4 linked regions of the Homo sapiens genome follow. The protein of the gene in region 1 interacts with the protein of each later gene in a biochemical or structural test. Each region holds a gene or a part of one and is shown on either strand. Other genes may lie near its edges.

The links. Proteins that work in one complex are often made in the same cells at the same time.
Region 2: the proteins of ITGB1 (region 1) and MAP4K4 form a complex in vitro, tested with the Homo sapiens proteins (one study listed by BioGRID).
Region 3: the proteins of ITGB1 (region 1) and GULP1 form a complex in vitro, tested with the Homo sapiens proteins (one study listed by IntAct).
Region 4: the proteins of ITGB1 (region 1) and ANGPTL4 interact in a biophysical measurement, tested with the Homo sapiens proteins (one study listed by IntAct).

The regions. Positions count from the first base shown.
Region 1 is NC_000010.11:32,899,818-32,903,024, reverse strand, and holds the end of ITGB1 (integrin beta-1 isoform 1A precursor), read left to right. Parts: intron 1-1,389; coding exon 1,390-1,455; 3' UTR 1,456-2,707; downstream 2,708-3,207.
Region 2 is NC_000002.12:101,700,707-101,704,206, forward strand, and holds part of MAP4K4 (mitogen-activated protein kinase kinase kinase kinase 4), read left to right. Parts: intron 1-3,500.
Region 3 is NC_000002.12:188,581,874-188,585,373, forward strand, and holds part of GULP1 (PTB domain-containing engulfment adapter protein 1), read left to right. Parts: intron 1-467; coding exon of another isoform or gene 468-692; intron 693-2,391; coding exon 2,392-2,530; intron 2,531-3,500. UniProt on the Homo sapiens protein: May function as an adapter protein. Required for efficient phagocytosis of apoptotic cells. Modulates cellular glycosphingolipid and cholesterol transport. May play a role in the internalization and endosomal trafficking of various LRP1 ligands, such as PSAP.
Region 4 is NC_000019.10:8,370,655-8,374,154, forward strand, and holds part of ANGPTL4 (angiopoietin-related protein 4 isoform a precursor), read left to right. Parts: intron 1-401; coding exon 402-497; intron 498-586; coding exon 587-868; intron 869-2,996; coding exon of another isoform or gene 2,997-3,050; coding exon 3,051-3,232; 3' UTR 3,233-3,500. UniProt on the Homo sapiens protein: Mediates inactivation of the lipoprotein lipase LPL, and thereby plays a role in the regulation of triglyceride clearance from the blood serum and in lipid metabolism. May also play a role in regulating glucose homeostasis and insulin sensitivity.

The sequences.
Region 1 (3,207 bases):
ATGTCCCATTCTTTTCCCTACACCTTGACTTTGCATAGATTGCTATTTACCAACCAATAATTTTTCTAGTCAATTTCACAATGAAAATCTCCTTAATCTTCTTAAAGTTAATAACTTTTTTCTTATACTATTCCCAGATTATGTTCATAACTCTATTGTAAACTTCATCAGAGTGCCTTATTTTCATGTCTCTCACCCACCAAACTATACCTTCCTTGAGGGCAGAAATTGTGCCACCAAAAGGCAGATCCAAATACAGTCTGCAATGAAGTGTGAATAAAATTTAAAAACAAAAATTACTTTTAGATCAAAAAATGTTTTAGATGCTTTCTATAAATATTTTTTTAAAAATCACCTGCAGTTGGTTCTATAGTGAGATATAAAACTGAACAACATTCCAAAATCTTAATTTTTTCTTAAAAAAAATTTCCCTGGTAGTTAACAAGTATTTTTTATTTGTACTCACTGTAATTTTCTCTGATTAAGTGTTATTTGGTCACACTTCTCACTTGGCTTTCAAGCCTGCTTTCAATTTATAAGAACAGGAGAAAAAAGAATGCTATAGCAAGTATTTAAATGTAGCAGTTATAGTATAAGAGAATTTTTAAGGAAAAGGGTGATACAGTGATATGTTTTTTTCTGCTTAAAACATCACTGTCAGTATATTTTTGGATCTTGAAAGATCTCTTGTGTTTATGGCTTGGGGCCTGCTTGCTAGGCTTGACTTCAGTACTGTTTACTAAATTATAGCACTGCAATAAGACATTTCACCAATATGATATTGAAGCATAACAAGTTATTTCATAAGGAATGGTAATTATCTAACATTCTAAGCAAATTTGGCAGTGTGACTTGGTGGGGCGCAGTGCTGTCCCTGACACAATGACAGCCTTACTCTCTAAATTAGTAACTTCCGTAGGAGACCCCAGAAGCACACCTCCCTCCCAGCAGTGAAAGCCGAGGATTCCCGTTTTGATTAGCAGGCGCCTTCTGTTCACGATAAAGGGATAAGAATCAGGCAGTGATGGCAGCGGAGTTCATGCTTCATTAAGGCAGGCATTGCAAACTAGTTCAGAGGAGAGAATCCACGATGACAGCACATTCTGTGCCATGGAGAACATTCTTAAATCAAGCCTCCAGTGGAGGAAGGACTCAAGAATGAAATAGCACCAGATAACGGGGCATCATTAGACTTGTAAAGCAAAGCTTCCATTTTCTATTTTTATATAAACCATTATTAATGCCTTTAAAACAACTGTGATATCTGGACAAATAAAATAGAAATGACTTCTTAAGATGATTGCAACTTTTAGTCTTGATTTATAAAAATTATTCTACATAATTTTAGTAGGGTAACTGATAATTTTTCTCACTTTTTTTTTGTTGTAGGGTGAAAATCCTATTTATAAGAGTGCCGTAACAACTGTGGTCAATCCGAAGTATGAGGGAAAATGAGTACTGCCCGTGCAAATCCCACAACACTGAATGCAAAGTAGCAATTTCCATAGTCACAGTTAGGTAGCTTTAGGGCAATATTGCCATGGTTTTACTCATGTGCAGGTTTTGAAAATGTACAATATGTATAATTTTTAAAATGTTTTATTATTTTGAAAATAATGTTGTAATTCATGCCAGGGACTGACAAAAGACTTGAGACAGGATGGTTACTCTTGTCAGCTAAGGTCACATTGTGCCTTTTTGACCTTTTCTTCCTGGACTATTGAAATCAAGCTTATTGGATTAAGTGATATTTCTATAGCGATTGAAAGGGCAATAGTTAAAGTAATGAGCATGATGAGAGTTTCTGTTAATCATGTATTAAAACTGATTTTTAGCTTTACAAATATGTCAGTTTGCAGTTATGCAGAATCCAAAGTAAATGTCCTGCTAGCTAGTTAAGGATTGTTTTAAATCTGTTATTTTGCTATTTGCCTGTTAGACATGACTGATGACATATCTGAAAGACAAGTATGTTGAGAGTTGCTGGTGTAAAATACGTTTGAAATAGTTGATCTACAAAGGCCATGGGAAAAATTCAGAGAGTTAGGAAGGAAAAACCAATAGCTTTAAAACCTGTGTGCCATTTTAAGAGTTACTTAATGTTTGGTAACTTTTATGCCTTCACTTTACAAATTCAAGCCTTAGATAAAAGAACCGAGCAATTTTCTGCTAAAAAGTCCTTGATTTAGCACTATTTACATACAGGCCATACTTTACAAAGTATTTGCTGAATGGGGACCTTTTGAGTTGAATTTATTTTATTATTTTTATTTTGTTTAATGTCTGGTGCTTTCTGTCACCTCTTCTAATCTTTTAATGTATTTGTTTGCAATTTTGGGGTAAGACTTTTTTTATGAGTACTTTTTCTTTGAAGTTTTAGCGGTCAATTTGCCTTTTTAATGAACATGTGAAGTTATACTGTGGCTATGCAACAGCTCTCACCTACGCGAGTCTTACTTTGAGTTAGTGCCATAACAGACCACTGTATGTTTACTTCTCACCATTTGAGTTGCCCATCTTGTTTCACACTAGTCACATTCTTGTTTTAAGTGCCTTTAGTTTTAACAGTTCACTTTTTACAGTGCTATTTACTGAAGTTATTTATTAAATATGCCTAAAATACTTAAATCGGATGTCTTGACTCTGATGTATTTTATCAGGTTGTGTGCATGAAATTTTTATAGATTAAAGAAGTTGAGGAAAAGCATTTCTGGTTGGTGGGTAGTTCACTTATGAAGCTAAAACATAATTCTTTAAAAAAATGTACTAGGGACATAAGGAGAGTGGTATGGTGAAATACAGACTTGAAGACTGTCCTTGGGCTCTCTGAATCATGGTGGATAGATCCTTACTTATCCTGCTACGCTGGGAGAGAGGTTTCATCCCAATATTAAGCAGAATTAACTTTATGAACATCTTAGAGCCATTAGTAGGTGCTGGAAATTGTATCATTTTATTTAAGATATAGATAGGGGATTGTTAACTTTTCTGATAAGAAAAATTAGGAAAAATTTTACTTTTATTTGGCTTTGGTTTCTGTTTGAAAGGATATATCCATAAGTACTACTTGTGTAAAGCTTATTAGAAGAAATATATGCTGCTTTCTTAAGCATACAACAAATGTCAGAAATATTTGGAGGAGAAAAAGTTTCAGCCTTACTAGCCTTTCACATTTATACAATCCCTTCACATCCTGTTAATCTTCTT
Region 2 (3,500 bases), on another chromosome or scaffold:
GTTATCACACTTAGAAAAATGTCATATATTCACTATTAACGTTTTCTTGATTGTCTCATACATCAGTAAAATGTGTTTTTTTTTTTTTTTACTATAACAAGTTCTTTAATGTTTACAAGCGGGTACTGGGAACTTCAATCTTAGAAGTGGTGAAAATAGCAGAACATCTCTTTTTTTCCTCTTTTTAACTATTTAATTTCTAGAACCATTTACAATTATGTGTAGGAGTTAATTTAGGATTTTTGTTGGTATGATTTGCTTGTGGTAGATTTGGGATTACATTATTAACACTTTAGAGTTTGTTTATTGCTGCTAAACATCCTTTAGGATGAATAGCATTAAAGTTTGAGAAATACTTGTTGCTGAATTGTTATTTATAAAAAGGTCTTTATTTTTAAACATAATTTCAGGTAAAAAAAATCTGTAAGCTGAACAACTTGTCCTAATTTATTTTAGTGTCATATTTTCTATTTTTCATTAGCGCAGATGTTGCTTATTTTGAGGCAACTATATTTACATGAAGTGAGTGAGTTGAAAAGAGGGAGTTTTCTGAGATTTGATATGTCGTATGAAATAGCTTCTTTTGGGGCGAACGACTCTCCTGCAAAACTGTGCTAATGGTAGACCCCTCATTTATGGAAGAAAGGGAGGGGGAGGGGTGTGTGTGGCAGTAGGGCTAAGAGTGACCTTTGGGAATGGTAGAAAGGTTAGGGAGTAGTGGGAATTTCAAGGAGATGTTATTTGGACTTGAGGAGAGACATCTTCTTTAAGCATTGAGGAGCCACTGAAAGGTTTTGTTGGAATTGGGGATCCCTGAGAGTAGGGGACTTGATCCAGTTTTTTGGGGATAACTTCTAATTTTCTGTGTCTCTGACAACAGTGGTAAATGGTCTGGTATAGTTGAACAGTATGTAACTTCATCTTAAAAGAAGGAGGTGAAAAACGGGGTGTATTCTGTTTAGAGAAATTTATTTTCACCCTTAGGTTTTTGAGAGACGGATACTCATAAACTTAAAATTGTAAATTTCTCTTCACAAGGTTACATTCAGAGTACCATATATTTATAAGAGAAGTGTCTGGTATGATCAGTGAGGAGAATGATAGTGTGAAAAATTAAAACCAGAAATAAATCAAGTTTGTTTCCATGTTATTTTGGATTTTATTGTTATTTTGTTTTGAGACGGAGGTTTGCTCTGTTGCCCAGGCTGGAGTGCAGTGGCACCATCTCTACTCACTGTAACCTCCGTCTCCCGGGTTCAAGTGATTCTCCTGCCTCAGCCTCCTGAGTAGTTGGGATTACAAGTGCGTGCCATCACGTCCAGCTAATTTTTGTATATAGAGATGGGTTTTCACCATGTTGGCTAGGCTGGTCTTGAACTCCTGGCCTCAAGTGATCTGCACGCCTTGGCCTCCCAAAATGCTGGGATTGTATACAGGCATGAGCCACTGCACCCGGCCTTATTGTTATTTTAAATATTTATTTGACCATTTTTGTGTTCTTGGGGTAACTACTGTTATTTTGCATTTTGTGAGCATGTGATGGCTGGTGTTCCAAATGTCTTGAATAAAAGATTGTCAACCGGACGCGGTGGCTTACGCTTGTAAATCCCAGCACTTTGAGAGGCGCAGGTGGGCGGATCACTTGAGGTCAGGAGTTCGAGACCAGCCTGGCCAACATGGTGAAACCCCGTTTCTACTAAAAATACCGAAAAATTAGCCGGGTGTAGTGGGGGGTGCCTGTAATCCCGGCTACTCAGGAGGCTGAGACAGGAGAGTCACTTGAACCTGGGAAGTGAAAGTTGCAGTGAGCCGAGATTGTGCCATTGCACTCCAGCCTGGGCAACAAGAGTGAAACTCTGTCTCAAAAAAAAGAAAAGAAAAGAAGATTGCCAGCCTGAGGACAATTCTGAGTCTTGGAAGGACTGACAGAGGGGAAATCCGGTAACAGTAACGTGGAAGTCAGGGAGTTTAGAATCCAGCAGGTAAAATGTCTGAAATCAAGGTTCACTCAAAGGAGGGACCATAGATTTTGTGGAAGACTGACCCATTCTGATCTTGTCATTGGAGGAAGGGTACAATGTGGACCTTGGAGATTGAGGACAAGGGTACCCTAGGCCCAAAGACCTTGATGGTAAGGGGAGCTAACGCTAAGAGTTTGCTCATTCGATGCCCATTTGACACTGTGCTCATGTTAGACCCCTCATTTATTGAAGAAAGGGAGGGGAGAGGTGAGGTGTTTGTGTGTGGCAGTAGGGCTAAGAGTGACCTTTGGGAATGGTAGAAAGGTTAGGGAGTAGTGGGAATTTCAAGGAGGTATTATTTGGACTTGAGGAGAGACATCTTCTTTAAGCATTGAGGAGTCACTGAAAGATTTTGTTGGAATTGGGGATCCCTTAGAGTAGGGGACTTGATCCAGATGTGTGTTGGGAAGGAGCTGGTAAAATGGTTGGCCTTGGGCAGTGGTCCAGTGACAGGAGGTGAAGGCCGAGGCGGGATAGTGGCAGTGGTGGTAGAGAGGAGGAGAGGTTGGGGTGGATACTTGGGCATTACTCTTTGCTAGGTTTAACATGTTGAATTCACTCGTTCTCTGCAGGCTTTGGTATGTCCCTTTAAGTGGGTACACGGTTTGCCCACAGTATTAGGAGGAGCTTTGGGATTCCCAGCACTTTGGGAGGCTGAGACGGGCGGATCACCTGAGGTCAGGAGTTGGAGACCAGCCTAGCCAACATGGCAAAACCCCATCTCTACTAAAAATATAAAAAGTAGCCAGGCGTGGTGGTGTACGCCTGTAATCCCAGCCACTTGGGAGGCTGAGGTGGGAGAATCGCTTGAACCTAGGAGGTGGAGGTTGCAGAGAACTGAGATCATGGCACTGCACTCCAGCCTGGGCAACAGAATGAGACTCTGTCTCAAAAAAAAAAAAAAAAAAAAAGGCGGGGGTGGGGTGGTTAAAGTGCTAAAATTGCTTTCGATTGCTCAGTGGTAAAGTGCCATATAGATTGTCTGGCTTTTAAAAATCATTAGGGGCCGGGCACGGTGGCTCACACCTGTAATCCCAGCATTTTGGGAGGCCGAGGCGGGTGGATAACAAAGTCAGGAGTTCAAGACCAGCCTGTCAACATGGTGAAACCCCATCTCTACTAAAAATAGAAAAATTAGCCGGGCGTGGTGGCGCGTGCCTCTAGTCCCAGCTACCCAGGAGGCTGAGGCAGAAGAATTGCTTGAACTTCCCCAGGAGGTGGAGGTTGAAGTGAGCCGAGATAGCACCACTGCACTCTAGCCTGGGTGACAGAGCCAGACTCCTCCAAAAAGAAAAAATAAAATAAAAAAATTTGCATTTTGGAGCAAGTACTTAAACTTTTGTGAGGGATTCTCTAAGTGTTATCTTTTAAGTGTAGCATCTCTCGTTCTTAATTGGAGGTAAAGACATCCACTGGGGCAAAATGAATTTTGTAGAACCAGATGTTTTCATTAGGAGGAGATTGTGTCAGCTGATCTGC
Region 3 (3,500 bases), on another chromosome or scaffold:
TTTGAGGATTAAATATAAAATGTATGTTGTAATCCCTTTTGAAAATTCTACACAACCATAACTTTATGTACAAGAGTTTACTCCTAGTTCTGTAACTGTTCTCTCATTACTATCCTTCCTTTTTCCATTTCATTACAGAAGCCCTCTCCAAAATAAATCTTCAGGCTTTCTTCATGTTTCTCTCCATTACCTTCCTCTTAGGTCCCGATGAATGCAATATTCTATTTAAAATACCAAAAAATGTAATATTTCAGTAAAAAAAAGATCAAATTAAGCAATCCAGAATCTAAGGACTATCACATAGGAAAATCAACTCTAACTCTATGTTTTAATTTTAGAAAAGTTACTGTGAAATGATCTTATCATCTTAACAAAACACCATTTTACAAATAAATTTCAAGTATACTTTCTCCTTTCCTCCATGCCTGCCCTCTTAGGATATTTCTTTTTCTGTCATTCCTTTACAGCTGCTGCACAATATGTCTGATCATGAACAACATGTGTTTCAGAGATGCTCATCCTCTTTCTGGCGTAGTAATGGTGATTCATCTCCCTGTCTCAATATTTCTTCCATCTCTGTCACTCCTATCAACTCGCCTGATTCCAGACTATCACTGGGACTGTTAATACCACCACCTTCTAAATGTGGCTTTCCCAAGCCAGTCAGTGAGAGCAGCATCCCAAGACCTCATGTAATTTGCTAAGCAGATAATTCTTTTTTATTATCCCACTTATTTTGCTTAAATTCTGCCAAAATGTGCTATTTGTAAAGTTATCAAAAATTTAGATGTATCTTGAGTCAATGTGATGTGATCTGGAGCCTTTGTGTGCCATTGTTGTTTTCTTTGATTACCTGATACCAGAAAGTTTCAAGTAGAGGGTGGTGACAGTGTAGAAATTTACATACAGATACTTCAAAGGATCTATCAGATGTTGCAGTTGGGAAATTAGATCATTGGTAAGAGCAATTTCAGCAGAGTTCAGTGCAAAAAGAACAAATCTAGATTGATAAGAGTTAAAGATAGAATGAAGTAAATCTTAGGACAGAAAGTGTAGTATCTCTTTCAAGGAGCTTAGCCTTGAAGGAAAAAGAAAAACAGAATAGAGGCTGGAAGATTAAAGAGGGACAGAGTAAATAAATTTTTGATTGATTTGTTTTGCTTTTAATGACAGCCAAGATTTTAGAATTTTTGTATCGTGAAAAAGAGTAGAGATATAGAAGTGAGAGGGGATACAGGAATGGGATAATTAGGGGAATGGTATTGCTGAGTAACAGTAAAGGGGTGAGGGGATACAATAAACAAATTGTTAAAGAAAGGGGGATGACAGCAATTTTCCTGCATGAAAAATAATGTACTAGCAATTATTTTAGCTGAATAGCAAACCCATCATTCTCTACACACAATAAGCCTGATTTTTTCATCACCTGCACTACCTGTGAATCAGAAAATTAAACGTATTCTGAGAATTCTAATTTTAATATGAACTACTGGAAGCAATCTCTGTCCAAGTTCTCACAGGAAAAGCAAATTTTTCGCCACTATTCCCCCAAAATGGAAATTCTCTTTTATCCCTGATCAAATCAGATGGTTTTCAAAGGAGATTATACATATATACATATTGTTCCCTGTTTTACAAAGTGATAAATGTCTAATTTTGATATTACTTCTTGGCTACATTTTCATGAGATTTTCATTTATCTTTCCCTATATGTGTTCAGTCCTGGCCCAGACTGTATCAGAAAACTCAATGATTTGGGCAGTACACTGGCGATTATTAATTTAGTTTATAAGATTGCTATTTATTACAGAAAACTTGATGAAATCTTTCAGGAGTAAAATGTACTGCAATGAATATCAGTTGGTTCCCATTGTTGATATAAATACAAACTAAAATATACTCTACTTTTGAGAATGCAAAAAAAATCAATTGCATTTGAATGTTTATATTTAAGAAGGCAGGTCACTTATGTCTAATTATTCCAGTTTAAAATGTAATCTTATGCAGCGTATCTTACTGAAATCATATTTTTACATGAATAGTTTCTAATATATCTAATTCTCTGTTACAAGTAGCAGTCATTTCTATATATCCCAAAAATTCACTGTATCTTTTATATTCATCTGGAATAATATTGTCACCGTTTTTGCCATCATCTTTGAGAGCATTTTTACAGAAATTTTCTATTGCTTTCTTCTAAATGAGCATTTATCATAATTAGTGGAACCATATGAAATTGCGAATACTTAACTATTTTTGGTCTACAAAATGGCAAATTCTTATGATGCAACTGAAATTGTTGTTTACATATATTTTATATGCATATGAAATATTTAGCATTACAATGTGTCTATATGAAATATTACCCTAATTCATTTATTTTCATTGCAGGCAGGCAGTATGACACCTAAGTCGCCCTCCACTGACATCTTTGATATGATTCCATTTTCTCCAATATCACACCAGTCTTCGATGCCTACTCGCAATGGCACACAGCCACCTCCAGTACCTAGTAGATCTACTGAGATTAGTAAGCTTTCTCAACAAATCAAAGTTTCTTGTTATAGTTGCATACATTTTAAATATATAATTAAGACTTTGTGGGAAATTACATATCTTAACAACCTTACTTACAATTTTAATTATTAAAGTATTATTTTTATATTTGTATAAATTTCCATTAATTCTATTTTACTTTATAATTCAGACTACACTACTAATGACATCTCTGCTTGCAACTTTTACCTATTGTGTGAACAATTATGTTTTGGTGTATTACTTCATATTTAATTATATATCACTGTTTTGGGTTATATTTTTAATATTTTACTTTAACTTTTAAAAATAACTGGTGGTAATTAAATTGATCATTTTTTACATGTTTAATAGAGCTGGTTAAAATATTTTTGTTATCATAGGGTTTATGGACTTTTTTGTTAAAAAATATATAAATTATATCATGATTTCTTAACCTTTTGTAAGGGTTCTTTCCTATCTAAAATGCTATAAATTCATTGCTTTTCTGTTTTATCTTTTATATATCTGGAAGGAATATTAAAGTCTCTTTTTGATGAATTAGAAAACACCTATAAGCCTGTAAAATAAAAAGCAAGTTAGTTACTTGTAAAATACAATGAGCATACAGGCATTGGGTGAACGTTTCCATTCCAAATTGGAGAAATTGGCAAAGCGAAGGAGCCACAGGCCCCTTGCAAGTTTGAAACCCGGTGGGGCAGTCATTAAATCTTAAAGCTCCAAAATTATCTCATTTTACTCCATGTGTCACATCCAGGGCATGCTAATGCAAGGGATGGACCCCAAGGCCTTGGGCAGCTCCACCTCTGTGGCTCTGCAGGGTACAGCCCCCATAGCTGTTTTCACAGGCTGGCATTGAGTGACAGGCACACAGTGCAAGCTGTTGGTGGATCTACCATTCGGGGGTCTGAAAGACAGTGGCCCTCTTCTCACAGCTCCACTAGGCAGTGCCCCAGTGGGGACTC
Region 4 (3,500 bases), on another chromosome or scaffold:
GCGGCACTGCGATCCAGCCTGGGCAACAGAGTGAGACTCCATCTCTAAAAAAAAAAAAAAAAAAAAAGAAAGCTTTTTTTTCCACTGAGAAGTCCTTTCCATTACAAGAGGTTACAACACGGGGTTTTACCCAGTTCAGCTGGCCCAGAGAGGCTTTGCAGATTTCCACTGCCTACTCCCTCCCACACTCAGTCCCTGCTGGGTTCTTGGGACAAAGATCTTCCCAAGGCCAGCCCATAATATTCCTCCCTCTGACCCACCCTCCTCGAGTCCTCCAGGGATGAGTGAGGGAGCTGCTGTCTTCCTGGGTTTGGAGGGGGTTTGGTGCTTGGCAGCCAGATGAGGGAGTGGGGTCGTCTGTGAAGAGGGACTTCCTGGTGACCTTGTACCTTTCTGGGCAGATGGAGGCTGGACAGTAATTCAGAGGCGCCACGATGGCTCAGTGGACTTCAACCGGCCCTGGGAAGCCTACAAGGCGGGGTTTGGGGATCCCCACGGTAGGTGTTTCTAGTGGGGACAGAGGCAGGGGAGGAAGAGGGACCCTCAGAAGTGGCCCTGCCTCATGGAGTGGCCTCTCCCACTCCAGGCGAGTTCTGGCTGGGTCTGGAGAAGGTGCATAGCATCACGGGGGACCGCAACAGCCGCCTGGCCGTGCAGCTGCGGGACTGGGATGGCAACGCCGAGTTGCTGCAGTTCTCCGTGCACCTGGGTGGCGAGGACACGGCCTATAGCCTGCAGCTCACTGCACCCGTGGCCGGCCAGCTGGGCGCCACCACCGTCCCACCCAGCGGCCTCTCCGTACCCTTCTCCACTTGGGACCAGGATCACGACCTCCGCAGGGACAAGAACTGCGCCAAGAGCCTCTCTGGTGAGCAGGCCCTGCCATGCCACACCCAGCCAGCAGCTTCCCTCCTTATCTTTCTGCTGCTCTGTCCTGCCTTCAACCCCACATTGCATCTGTTTCCTGCCCCCACCTCTTCCTTACATGCCGTGTGTGTGATTGGGCCACTAACTTAGCCTATCTGGCCTCAGTTTTCCCATCCTGAAAAGGGTCTTGACCGTCTTTACTTTTATTTACTTATGTGTTTGTTTATTTATTTATTTATGTATTTATTTTTTGAGACGGAGTCTCACTTTGTCACCCAGGCTGGAGTGCTTTGTGGCACGATCTTGGCTCACTGCAAGCTCCACCTCCTGAGTTCACACCATTCTCCTGCCTCAGCCTCCCGAGTAGCTGGGACTATAGGTGCCCACCACCACGCCTGGCTAATTTTTTTGTATTTTTAGTAGAGATGGGGTTTCACCGTGTTAGCCAGGATGGTCTCGATCTCCTGACCTCGTGATCTGCCTGCCTCAGCCTCCCAAAGTGCTGGGATTACAGGCGTGAGCCACCGCGCCCGGCCTACTTATTTATTTTTTGAGACAGAGTCCCGCTGTGTCTCCCAGGCTGGAGTGCAAGTGACGTGATCTTGGCTCACTGCAGCCTCCGCCTCCTGGGTTCAAGTGATTCTCCTGCCTCAGCCTCCTGAGTAGCTGGGATTACAGGTTCCCGCCACCATGCACAGATAATTGTTTTGTATTTTTAGTAGAGACGGGGTTTCACCATGTTGGCCAGGGTGGTCTTGAACTCCTGACCTCAAGTGATCTGCCCACCTCGGCCTCCCAAAGTGTTGGGATTACAGGCGTGAGCCACAATACCCGGCCACAAACATCTTTATAATGGTGCTCCACAGGATTCTTTTTTTTTTTTTTTTTTTGAAACAGGGTCTCACTCTGTTGCCTAAGCTGGAGTGCAGTGGTGCGATCTCGGCTCACTGCAACCTCCACCTCCCGGGTTCAAGCAATTCTCAAAAAAAAAAAAAAATTAGGCACGGTGGCTCACACTTGCAATCCCAGCACTTTGGGAGGCTGAAGCGAGTGGATCACTTGAGCCCAGGAGACCAATCTGAGCAACAGGGCGAAATCCTGTCTCAATTAAAAATACAAAAAACTAGCTGGGCATGGTGGTGCCTGCCTGTGTTCCCATCTACTTGGGAGGCTGAGTTGGGAGGATCTCTTGAGCCTAGGAGATAAGGCTGCAGTGAGCTGAGACTGCGCCACTGCACTCAAGCCTGGGTGACAGAGTGAGACCCCTGCCTCAAAAGAAAAAGAAAAAATGCAGGCATGGTGGCTCACACCTGTGGTCCCAGCTACTTGGGAGGCCCAGGTACAAGAATCACTTGAGCCCGTAAGGTTGACGCTGCATTGAGCCATCACCACACCACTGCACTCCAGCCTGGGCAATGGAGCCAGGCCCTGTCTCAAAAAAAATTGTTTTTAAACTTAAAAATAAGGCCGGGTGTGGGGGCTCACACCTGTAATCCCAGCACTTTGGGAGGCCGAGGTGGGTGGATCACCTGAGGTCAGGAGTTCAAAACTAGCCTGGCCAACATGGTGAAACCCTGTCTCTACTAAAAATACAAAAATTAGGCCAGGCGCAGTGGGTCATACCTGTAATCCCAGCACTTTGGGAGGCTGAGGAGGGTGGATCACATGAGGTAAGGAGTTTGAGACCAACCTGGCCAACATGGTGAAACCCCCTCACTACTAAAAATACAAAAACTAGCCAGGCGTGGTGGCGGGTGCCTGTAATCCCGGCTACTCAGGAGGCTGAGGCATGAGAATCCCTTGAACCTGGGAGGCAGAGGTGCAGTGAGCCGAGATTGTGCCACTGCACTCCAGCCTGGGAGATAGAGTGAGACTCAGTCTCAAAAAAAAAGACCAAAAATTAGCCAGGTGTGGTGGCAGGCGCCTGTAATCCCAGCTACTCGGGAGGCTGAGGGAGGAGAATCACTTAAACCTGAGAGACGGAGGTTGCAGTGAGCTGAGATCGCACCACTGCACTCCAGCCTGGGTGACAGAGTAAGACTCAATCTCAAAAAAAAAAAAGTCAAGTCCAAAGCCCAGCCTGGTCCCCAACCTGCCTCATCCTCAACCCTATCCCTATCTCCTTTCAGCCCCATCGGTGGCTCAAAGACCTGACCATGTTCCCTCTCCCCTGACCCCGGCAGGAGGCTGGTGGTTTGGCACCTGCAGCCATTCCAACCTCAACGGCCAGTACTTCCGCTCCATCCCACAGCAGCGGCAGAAGCTTAAGAAGGGAATCTTCTGGAAGACCTGGCGGGGCCGCTACTACCCGCTGCAGGCCACCACCATGTTGATCCAGCCCATGGCAGCAGAGGCAGCCTCCTAGCGTCCTGGCTGGGCCTGGTCCCAGGCCCACGAAAGACGGTGACTCTTGGCTCTGCCCGAGGATGTGGCCGTTCCCTGCCTGGGCAGGGGCTCCAAGGAGGGGCCATCTGGAAACTTGTGGACAGAGAAGAAGACCACGACTGGAGAAGCCCCCTTTCTGAGTGCAGGGGGGCTGCATGCGTTGCCTCCTGAGATCGAGGCTGCAGGATATGCTCAGACTCTAGAGGCGTGGACCAAGGGGCATGGAGCTTCACTCCTTGCTGGCCAGG